3 separate regions of the Homo sapiens genome follow, and regions 1 and 2 are each linked to region 3. The links come from fine-mapping of genetic effects on gene expression. A gene starts in region 3. Each other region holds a variant in brackets. All regions are shown on one strand. Distances are between the middles of the regions. Region 1 has its middle 13 kb from the start of HDHD5-AS1. Region 2 overlaps ADA2 (adenosine deaminase 2). Region 3 holds the start of TMEM121B (transmembrane protein 121B).

Region 1 (4,118 bases), 51 kb before region 3:
GTGTGAACCACTGCATCTGGCCATTCTTCCTTACGCAATAAAATGTTCTACCTTCATTTTGTACTTTCCCTGTGTCATGCCTGAGCTCAGCCATTTCTCCAGGGAGCTCTGTTCCTTTCAGTAGAGAATAATATTTAGTAGCCCTGATCTAGGCACTAGATGTGCTCATTGTTACTGGAGTGTGTGTGTGTGTGTGTGTGTGTGTGTGTAGACACAGAAATACAATTTATGCATATTAAAATGGGAATATTATGGCCAGGCATGGTAGCTCATCCCTGCAATCCTAGCACTTTGAGAGGCTGAGGCGGGTGGATCACTTGAGGTCAAGAGTTCGAAACCAGCCTGGCCAACATGGTGAAACCCCGTCCCTACTAAAAATAAAAAAAATTAGCCAGACATGGTGGTGGGCACCTGTAATCCCAGCTACTCAAGAGGCTGAGGCAGGAGAATCGCTTAAACACAGGAGGCGGAGGTTGCAGTGAGCCAAGATCATGCCACTGCACTCCAGCCTGGGCGAGACTCTGTCTCAAAAACAAACAAACAAGCATCCAAAACAAAACAAATAAAAAAAATGGGCAGGAAGAGGGAAAGAGTTGAAAAAAGAAGAGAAAACGATGGAATTGTTAGACTGGAAGTGGCCACTGGAATGGAAAGAGTTGAAAAAAGAAGAGAAAACGATGGAATTGTTAGACTGGAAGTGGCCACTGGAATGGAAAGAGTTGAAAAAAGAAGAGAAAACGGTGGAATTGTTAGACTGGAAGTGGCCACTGGAATGGAGGGCTCGGCTACCTTAGCAGTGCTCCCGAAGCTGCCATTTCAGAGGAAATGTGTGTTAGTCAGATTTTATTCTTTTTTCCTTAAGAAGACCCTTCAAATATGTATAAACCTCAGGACTGCCCCAAAATCTGGATCTGCGCCTGCTCTAGATCAGCTCTTCATTTGGAAGGAGGAAAGCGAGGTGGAGGTGTGTTCGTTTGAAAAGACTAGCTGAAAAGAGAAAACTTACAGGAGCCTCAGCTTGTGAGGGACCTTGAAAGACTATGCAACCAGCCTCACCTTCAGGAAGAGCAGCCCGAGACTTCCTCAGGAAGATGTCCCTGTTTCTTTTTATTTTCTTTTTTTTTGAGACTGAGTCTCACTCTGTCGCCCAGGCTGGAGTGTAGTAGCATGATCTCGGCTCACTGCAACCTCCACCATCCCAGTTCAAGTGATTCTCCTGCCTCAGCCTCCCTAGTAGCTGGGATTACAGGCACGCGCCATCACACCTGGCTAATTTTTGTATTTTTAGTAAAGTCGGGGCTTCACCATGTTGGCCAGGCTGATCTCGACCTCCTGACCTCAAGTGATCTGGCTGCCTCGGCCTCCCAAAGTGCTGGGATTACAGCCGTGAGCCACCGCACCCGGCGCCTGTTCCATTCTTAAAGCTCACCAGAACGCGATTCTGTAAACTGCTTCAGCCACCCATTCCGGAATCCCAAATGACGCCTTCCCATGGTCAGGATTTCAATGAGTGGTGCCATCCTTGGCTCTCACAGGAACTGATCCCTTGGGGAGGACTGTATGAAAATGCATCTGTAAGCTCAGATGAAGTCAGCATGCTAGGGTTGGAAATATTATTTTCACATACATAGTCTAGGTTACTTAATTTATTGTTTTGAGACAGGGTCTCACTGCCCAGCCTGGAGGGCAGTGCTGTGATCATAGCTCACTATAATCTTGAACTCCTGGGCTCAAGGGACCCTCCCGCCTCAGCCTGCCTCTCCAGTAGTTGGGACGACAGACGCGCACCACCACGCCCGGCTGTTTAATAGAGATGGGGGTCTCCTTTTGTTGCCCAGGATAGTATTGAACTCATGGCCTCACGTGATTCTCCTGCCTGTATCTCCCAAGGCACTGGGATTACAGGCCAGAGCCACCTTGCCAGGCCAGTATGTTACTTTAAATAGCAGTCATCCTAAAAATAGCTTACCCTCCTCTGTCCTTCCCTGCCTGGAAAGGGTGTAAAAATAACATTTGGGGGCTGTAAATGCTGTCTAGATCTCTGGAGCTAGGTAGGTGCAGAGGTGTGATTTGGGTTTGGCTGTGCTCCGAAAAAACCGGGGCCGAGCTGCTGGTTTTGAATTTGTCCAGGCTTTTTAGCCAATAGCCTCTTCCTCCGCCGGGAAGGGGTGGGACCCAGCCTTCCAAAACACCTTTGCTGAGGAACCGTGCAAAGACCTTGGATGAGGGCCCCAGCTCAGCCAGGCCTCCCTGAAGCGAAGCCAGCCCGGGGTGGGGACTGGTGGAGGGACTAGAGTTTCTTAGATTCACAGAATAGCAGAGCTGGGAGAGGCCTAAAGACCATCTTATCTACGCGTTTGTGTTTCTGATGACTGATTAAGGCCCAGAGAGGGTCAGTAACTCTTCCAGGTCGCACAGTGGGTGACA[G/A]TAGGTATGTGCTCGTCCTGGGACACAGAGCTGTTTTCTTCGCTTGTCTGGAGTGGGTTTCGGGGGTCGGCACTTGCCTCCCAGTGAGCTCCCGGCGCCTGCCAGTCCTGGCTGAGTGGGATCGGTCGGCCTCCACCCCTAATCTCCCCCGCTGCAGAGCCAAAGCACACCGGCCTCCAGGGGGCGCCGCCTCCGGGACGCGCCGACTCTCCCGAGCCCTGCTCTCTCTGGCCGGGGTCAGCCCCGGAAACAGCTTCAGTTTCCTGTCCCTTCCTCCCTGGGAGCAAGGATGTAGGCGCCCAGACCCCGCCCGCGGGCTCCCTTCGTCCGGCGTCCCTAGCGGCCCGCCCGGTCCCGCCGCCCCGCGGCTTGCGGATGGCTGCGGCCCCCCGGGCCCCGGGTGGCTGCGGTGGCGGGGAAACGGCAGAACGCAGGCGGCGATTCGCTGGGGACGGCGGCCGGAGGGAGGCGATGGCCCCAGGCTCGGCGCACCTGTGGAACTGCGCGGGCGGCGCGGCGCTGCTGCCCCCTGCCGGCCGCGCCCGGGCCCACTCCCGTGTCCACCCCGGCCCGGGTGCCCTCGGAGTCCCTCGCGTCACTGTGGGCAGCGCCAAGCTACGGCTTCCCATGGCAGAGCGGGGTGGGGCCGCGGGACGGCACAGAGCTCCCCTGCCGCGAATACGCCGGTTTAGTTGCTTCCCACAGATCACACATGGTCTCGCCTGTCCGCAGGGTCCCCTCCCGGCCTCAAGCCCCTGCCAGGCAGCATCGGCCGCTGGTGACCTTGGGTCATCCTGGCCTCTATGCATTTAGAGTAGACGCCGGGTGGTGGCGGCGCCTGTAGTCCCGCATTCTGGGAGGCCCAGGCGGGGCGCTAGAGCCCAGGAGTTCTAGACCAGCCTGGGGAAAACAGCGAGACTCTGTCTCTTCAAAACAAAACAAAAACAAACAAACAAAAAAGGGTAGAGCCCATAGTACAGGATGAGAGAGTAGTGCCGTAATGAATTTTAAATTTTAATTACATTTAAAATTAAAATGAATCTATATACAATCACATTTCAAAAATTCAAAAAGTATGAAAAGGAACACATTCGAAAGGCTTCTATCCACCTCTGTTTTCCACTGTCCTCTTTCCCATCCCACCCATTCTCCCACCAGGCTTAGTTTCTTGTGTTTCTTTATGCAAAATAAACAAAAGCAAATATATATATTTTTTCCTGCTCTCATATAAAAGGCAGCACAGTATCCACACTGTTCTGAACTCTTTTTTTTTTTTTTTGAGACAGGGTCTCACTCTGTTCCCCAGACTGGAGTGCAGTGGCACAATCTCAACTCACTGCAGCCTCCACCTCCTGGGTTCAGGCTATTCTCCTGCCTCATCTGGACCACAGGCGCACACCACCATGCCCGGCTAATTTTGTATTATTATTTTTTTCGAGATGGAGTCTTGCTCTGTCGCCCACAGATGGAGTGCAATGGTGCGATCTCGGCTCACTGCAACCCCTGCCTCCCGGGTTCAAGCAATTATCCTGCCTCAGCCCCCCGAGTAGCTGGGATTACAGGTGTGCGCCACCACACCTGGCTAATTTTTGTATTTTTAGTAGGGACGGGGTTTCACCATGTTGACTAGGCTGGTCTTGAACTCCTGACCTCATGATCTGCCCACCTCGGCCTCCCAAAGTGCTGGGATT
Region 2 (4,118 bases), 68 kb before region 3:
GCTCTGGAGGGCACTGACTCCCCAGGAGCCTCCTCCCATGCCCAGTCTTCCTGAGTCCCCTTCCCTTCCATGGGGCCTGGGGCCTGGAGGAGCTAAGCTCTGGCTTTGTGCCGGTCCCCCTAGGAGGGAGCTTGCAGGATGGGCCCACGTTCTGCTCAGAGGCTCCCTGGTGCCAGGTGCCCCTTCCCAGGGCCAGTGGCAGGAGGGTGTGAGGGCTGAGCTGAGTGCATCAGTGCCCCCAGGTTTGCCTAGGCTCTGGGGAGAGGCCATGGGTGGGGCAGGCCAGGAAGGCTTTATCCCCACAGAGCCGAGGATTGGAGCAGGAGAGCCAGTGGCAGGGCAAAGACCTTGAGCCTGTCGTGGGCTTGCGCCAGACCCTGTGTTTTGGGGCTTTTGTTGTCATGCTGCCTGCCTTGCCCCTGTAGGGTTCTGCAGTACCCAGGATCTTGCTGACTTAATCAGCAAGAGGCCATATGGTTACTGGGTCCAGCCGACCCATCAGGGACTTGGGTGACCTGTGGCCCTTTGCAGGTGTGCAGTGGACAGAGAGCTGCCCCTGAGCTGCATCCATGTCTACACCCCCGACAGAGATGCAGGGAGAGCTGGGAACAAGGCCACCTGGCCTCCTCTAAACGCAGACAAATAAAACTGTTCCCGTGGGTCCTCTGACCCCATCTACTTTTCAGAGACTACAGGTGCCCCCAGAGCCAGCAAGGGTCTTTGATAAGAATGGATTTGGGCTACATATCTCTCAGGGATCACAATGGCCTGGTCAGGGTGGGGTCAGGAGGGCAGGGGTGCCTCAGGTTTGGGAAACGGGACCTGCACACTTGGGGCTGGCCCAGCCCTGCACGGAGGGTGTGCTCTGGGGTTTGTGCTCTGTCGGTGCTGGGCACTGTCTCCTGGCTTCTCTGTCTGTCTCACAGATCCAAAGATGTGGCTGTCATCGCAGAATCCATCCGAATGGCCATGGGGCTCCGAATCAAGTTCCCCACGGTGGTGGCAGGGTTTGACCTGGTAACCCATGCTGTGAACAGAAGGGCTGCCTGTTAAGGGGGCATGCGAGGATGCCTGTCTGGGTGGAGCGGCAACTCCCTGGGAAGGGAGCGCAATGTGCCTGTTGGTACCCTGACATCCCAGGGCAGGCTCAGGCTGCTGACACAGCAGGGCTGCTCAGAGCTCAGCGCTGACCCTCTTCAGAGGCCTACAGGGGACGGCTGTCACTGGAGAAGGGAGAGCAGACAGCCAGTTCTAACAAGCTAACAAGGAAAGTTCCAGAATAAGGATGGCATTCAGGGAGTTTGGACCACAGTTATGGGCTCATTCCCCATGGCCCTGCCTGTGCCCTTTTTTCTATCCCACACTGCTCACCTAGGTGTGGGTCTTAAAACCCTCACCAGCCCCTGTAGCACGCGGGGTGGGGACTGGGGGGTAATGTCTGGAAACAGAGTCCAGGATGGAGCCAGGCCTTTGCAAATCCTCAAGGTAGTGATATTTGTCCCTCCCTCTCCAGCCATCATGCCTGGCCACACCAGTTTTTGAAGCTACACATTCATAGGTGTTGTCATTGTCCCACACCTCCCCACCAAATCGAAGCACAACCAGGACATTTCTTAGGTGACAGCTCGGCAATCTCATAAAGAATCTAGGCCGGGTGCAGTGGCTCATGCCCTCAGCACTTTGGGAGGGCGAGACAGGTGGATCACCTGAGGTCTGAAGTTCAAGACCAGCCTGGCCAACATGGAGAAACCGCATCTCTACTAAAAACACAAAAATTAGCCAGCCTTGGTGGCCTGCACCTGTAATCCCAGCTACTTGGGAGGCTGAGGCAGAATCACTTGAACTCAGGAGGCAGAGGTTGCAGTGAGCTGAGATTGCACCATTGCACTCCAGCCTGGGCGACAGAGCAAGACTCCATCTCAAAAAAAAAAAAAAAAAAGAATCTAGATTAGTCCAGGGCAGTGGCTCACTCCTGTAATCCCAGCACCTTGGGGGGCCAAGGTGGGAGGGTCACCTGAGTCCAGGAGTTCTAGACCAGCCTGAGCAAATCGGTGAGACCCCGTCTTTACAAAATATATATATATATATATTTTTTGCTCTTGGCCAGGCTGTAGTGCATTGGTGTGATCTCAGCTCACTGCAAGTTCTGCCTCCTGGGTTCATGCCATTCTCCTGCCTCAGCCTCCCAAGTAGCTGGGACTACAGGCACCCGCTACCACACCTGGATAATTTTTTGTATTTTTAGTAGAGATGGGGTTTCACTGTGTTAGCCAGGATGGTCTCGATCTCCTGACTTCGTGATCTGCCTGCCTCGGCCTCCCAAAGTGCTGGGATTACAGGTGTGAGCCACC[A/G]CGCCTGGCCTGCTCCTGGTCATTCTTAAAAGGCTGTGTGACAAAGGTCCCGGCAGTGGTGGCAGGGTACAAGGAAGGGTGTGCACAGGCTCCAGGGCGCGCCATCAGCAAGTGAGGCATGCGCCCTGCAGACACCTCCCTGTCCCTCTCTGTCCTGCAGGTGGGGCATGAGGACACTGGCCACTCCTTGCATGACTACAAGGAAGCTCTGATGATCCCCGCCAAGGATGGCGTTAAGCTGCCTTACTTCTTCCACGCCGGAGAAACAGGTGAGCCTGCGGGATGCGAGCAGAGGCAGCGGAGGTGGTCAATGGGAGAGCTCCTGGCCACAGGCCCATGCCTCAGGGTTAGAGCCTACAGGCGTTTCCAGAGCCCTTTCCTGTGCTCTATCTCACTTAATCCTGACAACAGCCCCATGGAGAAGGAATAACAAGGATAATAGAATCAGCCACTTTACATGTATTATTTCTAGTTTCTCTTTCTTCTTTCCTTCCTGTTTTCTTTTCTTCTTCTTCTTTTTTTTTCTTTTTTTTACGGAGTCTCCCTCTGTCGCCCAGCTCACTGCAACCTCGGCTTCCCAGGTTCAAGAGAGTCTCCTGCCTCAGCCTTCCAAGTAGCTGGTACTACAGGCACCTGCCACCACGCCTGGCTAATTTTTTGTATTTTTAGTAGAGACGGGGTTTCACCGTGTTAGCCAGGATGGTCTTGATCTCCTGACCTCATGATCTGCCCTCCTCGGCCTCCCAAAGTGCTGGAATTACAAGGGTGAGCCACTGCGCCTGGCCTTTTCTAATTGATTTCTGATTGTTTCCCCAGTTTTTAATCTCCATTTGATAGATGAAGAGCCCAAGGCTCCAAACACAGTGGTCCAGGGTTAAAGAGCTGGTGCGCAGTGGAGTCTGAATTTGAATCCTTCTTCTTCTTCTTTTTTTTTTTTTTTTTAATTTTTCGTGGTAGGGGCATAATCCTGCAAACTCACATCATCCTACTTTGGCTATAAAAATTCGTTTTAGGCTGGGCACAGGCACAGTGGCTCATGCCTGTAATCCTAGCACTTTGGAGGCTGATGTGGGTGGATCTCTTTAAACCCAGGAGTTTGAGGCCAGCCAGGGCAACATGGCAAAACTTTGTCTCTACAAAAAAATACAAAAATTAGCCAGGCATGATGGTACACACCTGTGGTCCCACCTACTTAGAGGCTGAGGTGGGAGGATTGCCTGAGCCCAGGCTCACTGAACTCCAGCCTGGGTGACAGAGCTAGACCCTGTCTCAAAAAAAAAAGTGTTTTAGCCAGGTACAGTGGCTCACATCTGTAATTCTAGCACTTAGGGAGGCAGAGGCAGGAGGATCACTTGAGCCCAGGAGTTTGAGACCAGTCTGGGCAACATAGTAAGATTCCATTCTACACAAAAAGGAAAACAAATTTTTTTTTTTTTTTTTTGAGATGGAGTCTCGCTCTGTGGCCCAGGCTGGAGTGCAGTGGTATGATCTCGGCTCACTTGCAAGCTCGGCTTCCTGGGTTCATGCCATTCTCCTGCCTCAGCCTCCCAAGTAGCTGGGACTACAGGTGCCCGCCACCACGCCCGGCTAATTTTTTGTATTTTTAGTAGAGACGAGGTTTCACTGTGTTAGCCAGGATGGTCTCGATCGCCTGACCTTGTGATCCACCCGTCTAGGCCTCCCAAAGTGCTGGGATTACAGGTGTGAGCCACTGCACCTGGTCAATTTTTTTGTTTTTTGAGATGGAGTCTCACTCTGTCACCCAGG
Region 3 (4,118 bases):
GCGGAGTTTCACTGTGTTGGCCAGGCTGGTCTCAAACTCCTGACCTCAGGTGATCTGCCCGCCTCTGCCTCCCAAATTGCTGGGATTATCACCATGCCCGGCTAGTTTTGTACTTTTAGTGGAGATGGGGTTTCTCCATGTTGGTCAGGCTGGTCTCAAACTCCCGACCTCAGGTGATCCGCCCGCCTCGGCCTCCCAAAGTGCTGGGATTACAGGCGTGAGCCACCGCGCCCGGCTGGGGTGGGGTCCTGTTTACAGATCAACATTCTGAGGTGAAATATTCAGGCTAAGACCACAAAGGTGTTAAGTGGCACAGGTGGGATGGCGGCCCCAGAGCTCCTGCCCTCACCACCATGCCAGCTTTCCAAAAGTGGTGTGTGTGGGGGAGGTGGAGATGGTGCAGGTTCTAAATTGTATATTTACCAGGGATTGGCTGTGCAGACTGACCTCCACGGAACTGGAAAAGGCAGGTTTGGCTGAAACGGACTCTTATTTAAGAGGCAGATTTAGGGGCGAGGCCTGACTAACCCCTGCGGCTCCACTGCATACAGCTCCCTCACACTGCATGGTGTTATCACGCTGCAAGCTGTTACCTAGGGGAGATGAGCCCGCAGCAGCAGCTTCAAAGGTCATGAAATCAGGGAGCCCACAGGCCCCACAAGGGTGCAGAGGCCAATAGGGCAGGCAAGCTTTCTGCCTTGTTTTCATGGGGCTGGGAATGGGATGTTTCCATTATTGGTGAACCTCAGATTGTTTTTGAGCCCCAACTGCTCTAGTCATTTCCTTCTCCCTTAAACCCCTAAAGGCAGCACTCTACCTTCTGCCTTCCAGAGTTGCTGCATCGACATCCATCCCCAGCCTTGGATGAGTCCTGGGGTGAGCTGGTGTGCTCTCTCCTGAGACTGTCTACGCAGGGCCACTGACTGCATTCCTTCCTTGGTGTCTCTGTCTACTGTGGTGGGCTGTAACCCTCACCATCATCCCTTTGGAGCCTTTGTTTTCATCCAGGTGCCCACACCTCTAAATGCCCCTTTATTTTACTCTCTGCTAGACACATCTTCCTATTACGTCCCATTCTGCTTTAAAAACCTTTGAGAAGCCCGCTGGGCGGATGCCACTTGCCCAATCTCGTTCCCTCGTCTCTCCTCCCAGGCAGGTGTTTTCAGGGAACTTCTCCATCCGCTGGAATCGGGTCGTCCCTGAGATGGCTCGCGACCCCAGGGCTGGGTACATGGATATTTAGGACTATAGGTCTGGGGCTGCTGCCCGAGCCCTTTTTGCCAACATGGCCTGACTCCTCCACTGGTTTTTAGTGCCTTAGGGAGAGGCGGATGGCCCCATGGGAAGGGCGCTGGACGGAGGGTGGAGGCGAAGCTGCCCACTGCCTGCCTCAGAGCTGAGAAGGCCAGGTGCAAAGCCCGCCCTGTAGCTTGAGCCCATCGCTTGGGGGCACCGAAGCCATCTAGGTACTAACGCCCTGCGGTACAGCCGGTGGGATTCCCAGCGACTTCCTTAGGAGTCCGCGCTCCATGGGAGTCCCCCCGCACCGGGTCGCCTCGCCCTGGCGGCTGCCCGCGCCTCCTCCCGCTTCCTCCAGGCCACAGGGCTCCCGACCCGACTGTGACGCACTGCACCCCCGCCCCTTCTCTTCCCGTTGATCCAGCGCGCCGCGCTTTCTCCTCCTCTGGTCTCGCTGCTTCCTCTCCCCCTCGAATCCAGTCCTGGTTTCCCCGCCGCCAGCCTCCCTCCCTCCCGGCGGGACTCGCTCCCCGCCCCGCCCCGCCCCGCCCCCGCCTCGCCTGTCTTCACCGCGGTCCGCTCGGTTCACCGCCTGCCCCCTCTCCCTGCCGCCCGGCCCGGCTCGCCCAGTCCAGTGGCTCCAGTCCGGATCTCGCCGCCGCCCGGCCCAGGTGCGAGTCCCCACTGCTGGGGAGGCGGCGGGCCCCGGCTCCCCTCGGCCGCCTAGCCCGCCTCGCCCGCCCGGGGTTGGCGGGGAGGGAACAGCTGGGCGGCCCCAGAGCCCCTCGGAGGACAATGCGCCCGGCGCTCGGCCACCCTCGCTCGGTCTCCTCCGCGTCCGGTTCCTTCCCGCCGCCCCCGGCAGCCGCCCGGCTGCAGCCCCTCTTCCTCCGCGGGGGCTCCTTCCGCGGCCGGAGAGGCTCCGGCGACAGCAGCACCAGCACCAGCACCAGCCGCGGGGGAGGCGGCGGCAGACGCGGCGGGGGCGGCGGCTCCCCGAGCAGCAGCACGGGCGCCGAGCGCGAGGACGACGACGAGAGCCTCAGCGTCAGCAAGCCGCTGGTGCCCAACGCCGCGCTCCTGGGGCCGCCGGCTCAGGTGGGCGCCCCCGCCGGCCCCGCGCCTGTCGCCTTCTCCTCCTCAGCGGCCACCTCCTCCTCCACCTCCACGCCCACCTCCTCCTGCAGCATGACAGCCGCGGACTTCGGCGGGGGCGCCGCGGCCGGGGCCGTCGGGGGCCCCGGGAGCCGCTCGGCGGGGGGCGCGGGCGGCACCGGGACCGGCAGCGGCGCCTCCTGCTGCCCGTGTTGCTGCTGCTGCGGCTGCCCAGACCGCCCCGGCCGCAGAGGTCGGCGCCGCGGCTGCGCCCCCAGTCCCAGGTGCCGCTGGGGCTACCAGGCGCTGTCCGTGGTGCTGCTGCTGGCGCAGGGCGGCCTGCTGGACCTGTACCTCATCGCCGTCACCGACCTGTACTGGTGCTCCTGGATCGCCACTGACCTGGTGGTGGTGGTGGGCTGGGCCATCTTCTTCGCCAAGAACAGCCGGGGCCGTCGGGGCGGCGCAGCCAGCGGCGCGCACAACCACCACCTGCACCACCACCACGCCGCGCCGCCCCTGCATCTGCCCGCCCCCTCGGCCGCTACCGCTGGGGCCAAGGCACGCGGAGCCCGCGGGGGCGCCGGCGGCGCGGGGGGCGGCCTGGGGGCGGCCGCGGCAGCGGGCGAGTTCGCCTTCGCCTACCTGGCCTGGCTTATCTACTCCATCGCCTTCACTCCCAAGGTGGTGCTGATCCTGGGCACGTCCATCCTAGACCTCATCGAGCTACGCGCGCCCTTCGGCACCACGGGCTTCCGTCTCACCATGGCGCTGTCGGTGCCCCTGCTCTACAGCTTGGTGCGGGCCATCAGCGAGGCGGGCGCGCCCCCGGGATCGGCAGGACCCCTGCTGCTGCAGCCCCAGCGGCACCGCGCGGCCGGATGCTTCCTGGGCACGTGCTTGGACCTGCTCGACAGCTTCACGCTGGTGGAGCTGATGCTGGAGGGCCGCGTGCCGCTGCCCGCGCACCTGCGCTACCTGCTTATCGCCGTCTACTTCCTCACCCTCGCCTCGCCGGTGCTCTGGCTCTACGAGCTCAACGCCGCGGCCGCAGCGGCTGCATCCTGGGGCCAGGCCTCCGGGCCTGGCAGCTGCAGCCGCCTTCTGCGCCTGCTGGGCGGCTGCCTGGTGGACGTGCCCTTGCTGGCGCTGCGCTGCCTCCTGGTGGTCAGCTACCAGCAGCCCCTCTCCATCTTCATGCTCAAGAACCTCTTCTTCCTCGGCTGCCGGGGCCTGGAGGCCCTGGAGGGCTGCTGGGACCGGGGCAATCGGGCCTCCCCGAGTCGGGCCAGAGGGGGCTACGGTGCTCCGCCCTCCGCCCCTCCACCACCTCCGCCACCACCTCAGGGAGGCTCCCAGCTGGGCCACTGCATCTCGGAGAACGAGGGGGGTGCTCATGGCTATGTCAACACCCTGGCTGTGGCCTCTCAGAATTGAGGGTGAAGGGCACGGGTCCTTGTTTTTGGGTTGAGAGTCCCCAACCCCCTTGTCTTCTACCTTCTGTCACCTAGATTTGATCAGGGTCTATTTGGAAGAGGTAACCCTTTTCAGGGCTAAGGGCCAGGGTGTTCTTCTGCACCCTGGGGTGAGGACGGCTTGGAGGGAGACCAGCAGTTAACGGTGAGGGAGGTAGGTGCACTTACCCTCTCCTCTCTTCTCCTATCCTACCCCAATCCTGACCTCCAAGGGGCTGGTACCTCTGCTTCTTGCTTTGCCCACCTCCACTCTAATTCCCATCCATTAGGAGGAGAGGGGTGCTGGGCCTTGGACCTTCTCCCTTGCTT

What was found.
Region 1: its variant is fine-mapped to the expression of TMEM121B in whole blood (INTERVAL, PIP 0.93).
Region 2: its variant is fine-mapped to the expression of TMEM121B in whole blood (INTERVAL, PIP above 0.99).

What each region holds. Positions count from the first base shown.
Region 1 is chr22:17,170,458-17,174,575 of GRCh38, reverse strand. No RefSeq gene overlaps it. Among named protein-coding and RNA genes, the nearest start is that of HDHD5-AS1, 13 kb to the right of the region's middle. RefSeq lists a silencer at 2,630-3,059 and an enhancer at 2,910-3,411. The variant G/A (reference allele first, on the strand shown) is at 2,428.
Region 2 is chr22:17,186,841-17,190,958 of GRCh38, reverse strand. It overlaps ADA2 (adenosine deaminase 2), which reads left to right. Exons shown (of 10, transcript NM_001282225.2): 6 at 927-1,017; 7 at 2,512-2,620. Among named protein-coding and RNA genes, the nearest start is that of HDHD5-AS1, 30 kb to the right of the region's middle. RefSeq lists enhancers at 624-1,124, 2,013-2,512, 2,513-3,014. The variant A/G (reference allele first, on the strand shown) is at 2,352.
Region 3 is chr22:17,119,044-17,123,161 of GRCh38, reverse strand. It overlaps TMEM121B (transmembrane protein 121B), which reads left to right and starts at 1,802. Exons shown (of 1, transcript NM_031890.4): 1 at 1,802-4,118. The coding sequence starts at 2,035. The coding sequence ends at 3,771. It overlaps LINC01664 (long intergenic non-protein coding RNA 1664), which reads right to left and starts at 1,567. Exons shown (of 4, transcript NR_103793.1): 1 at 1,123-1,567. RefSeq lists an enhancer at 844-1,375 and a silencer at 1,961-2,090.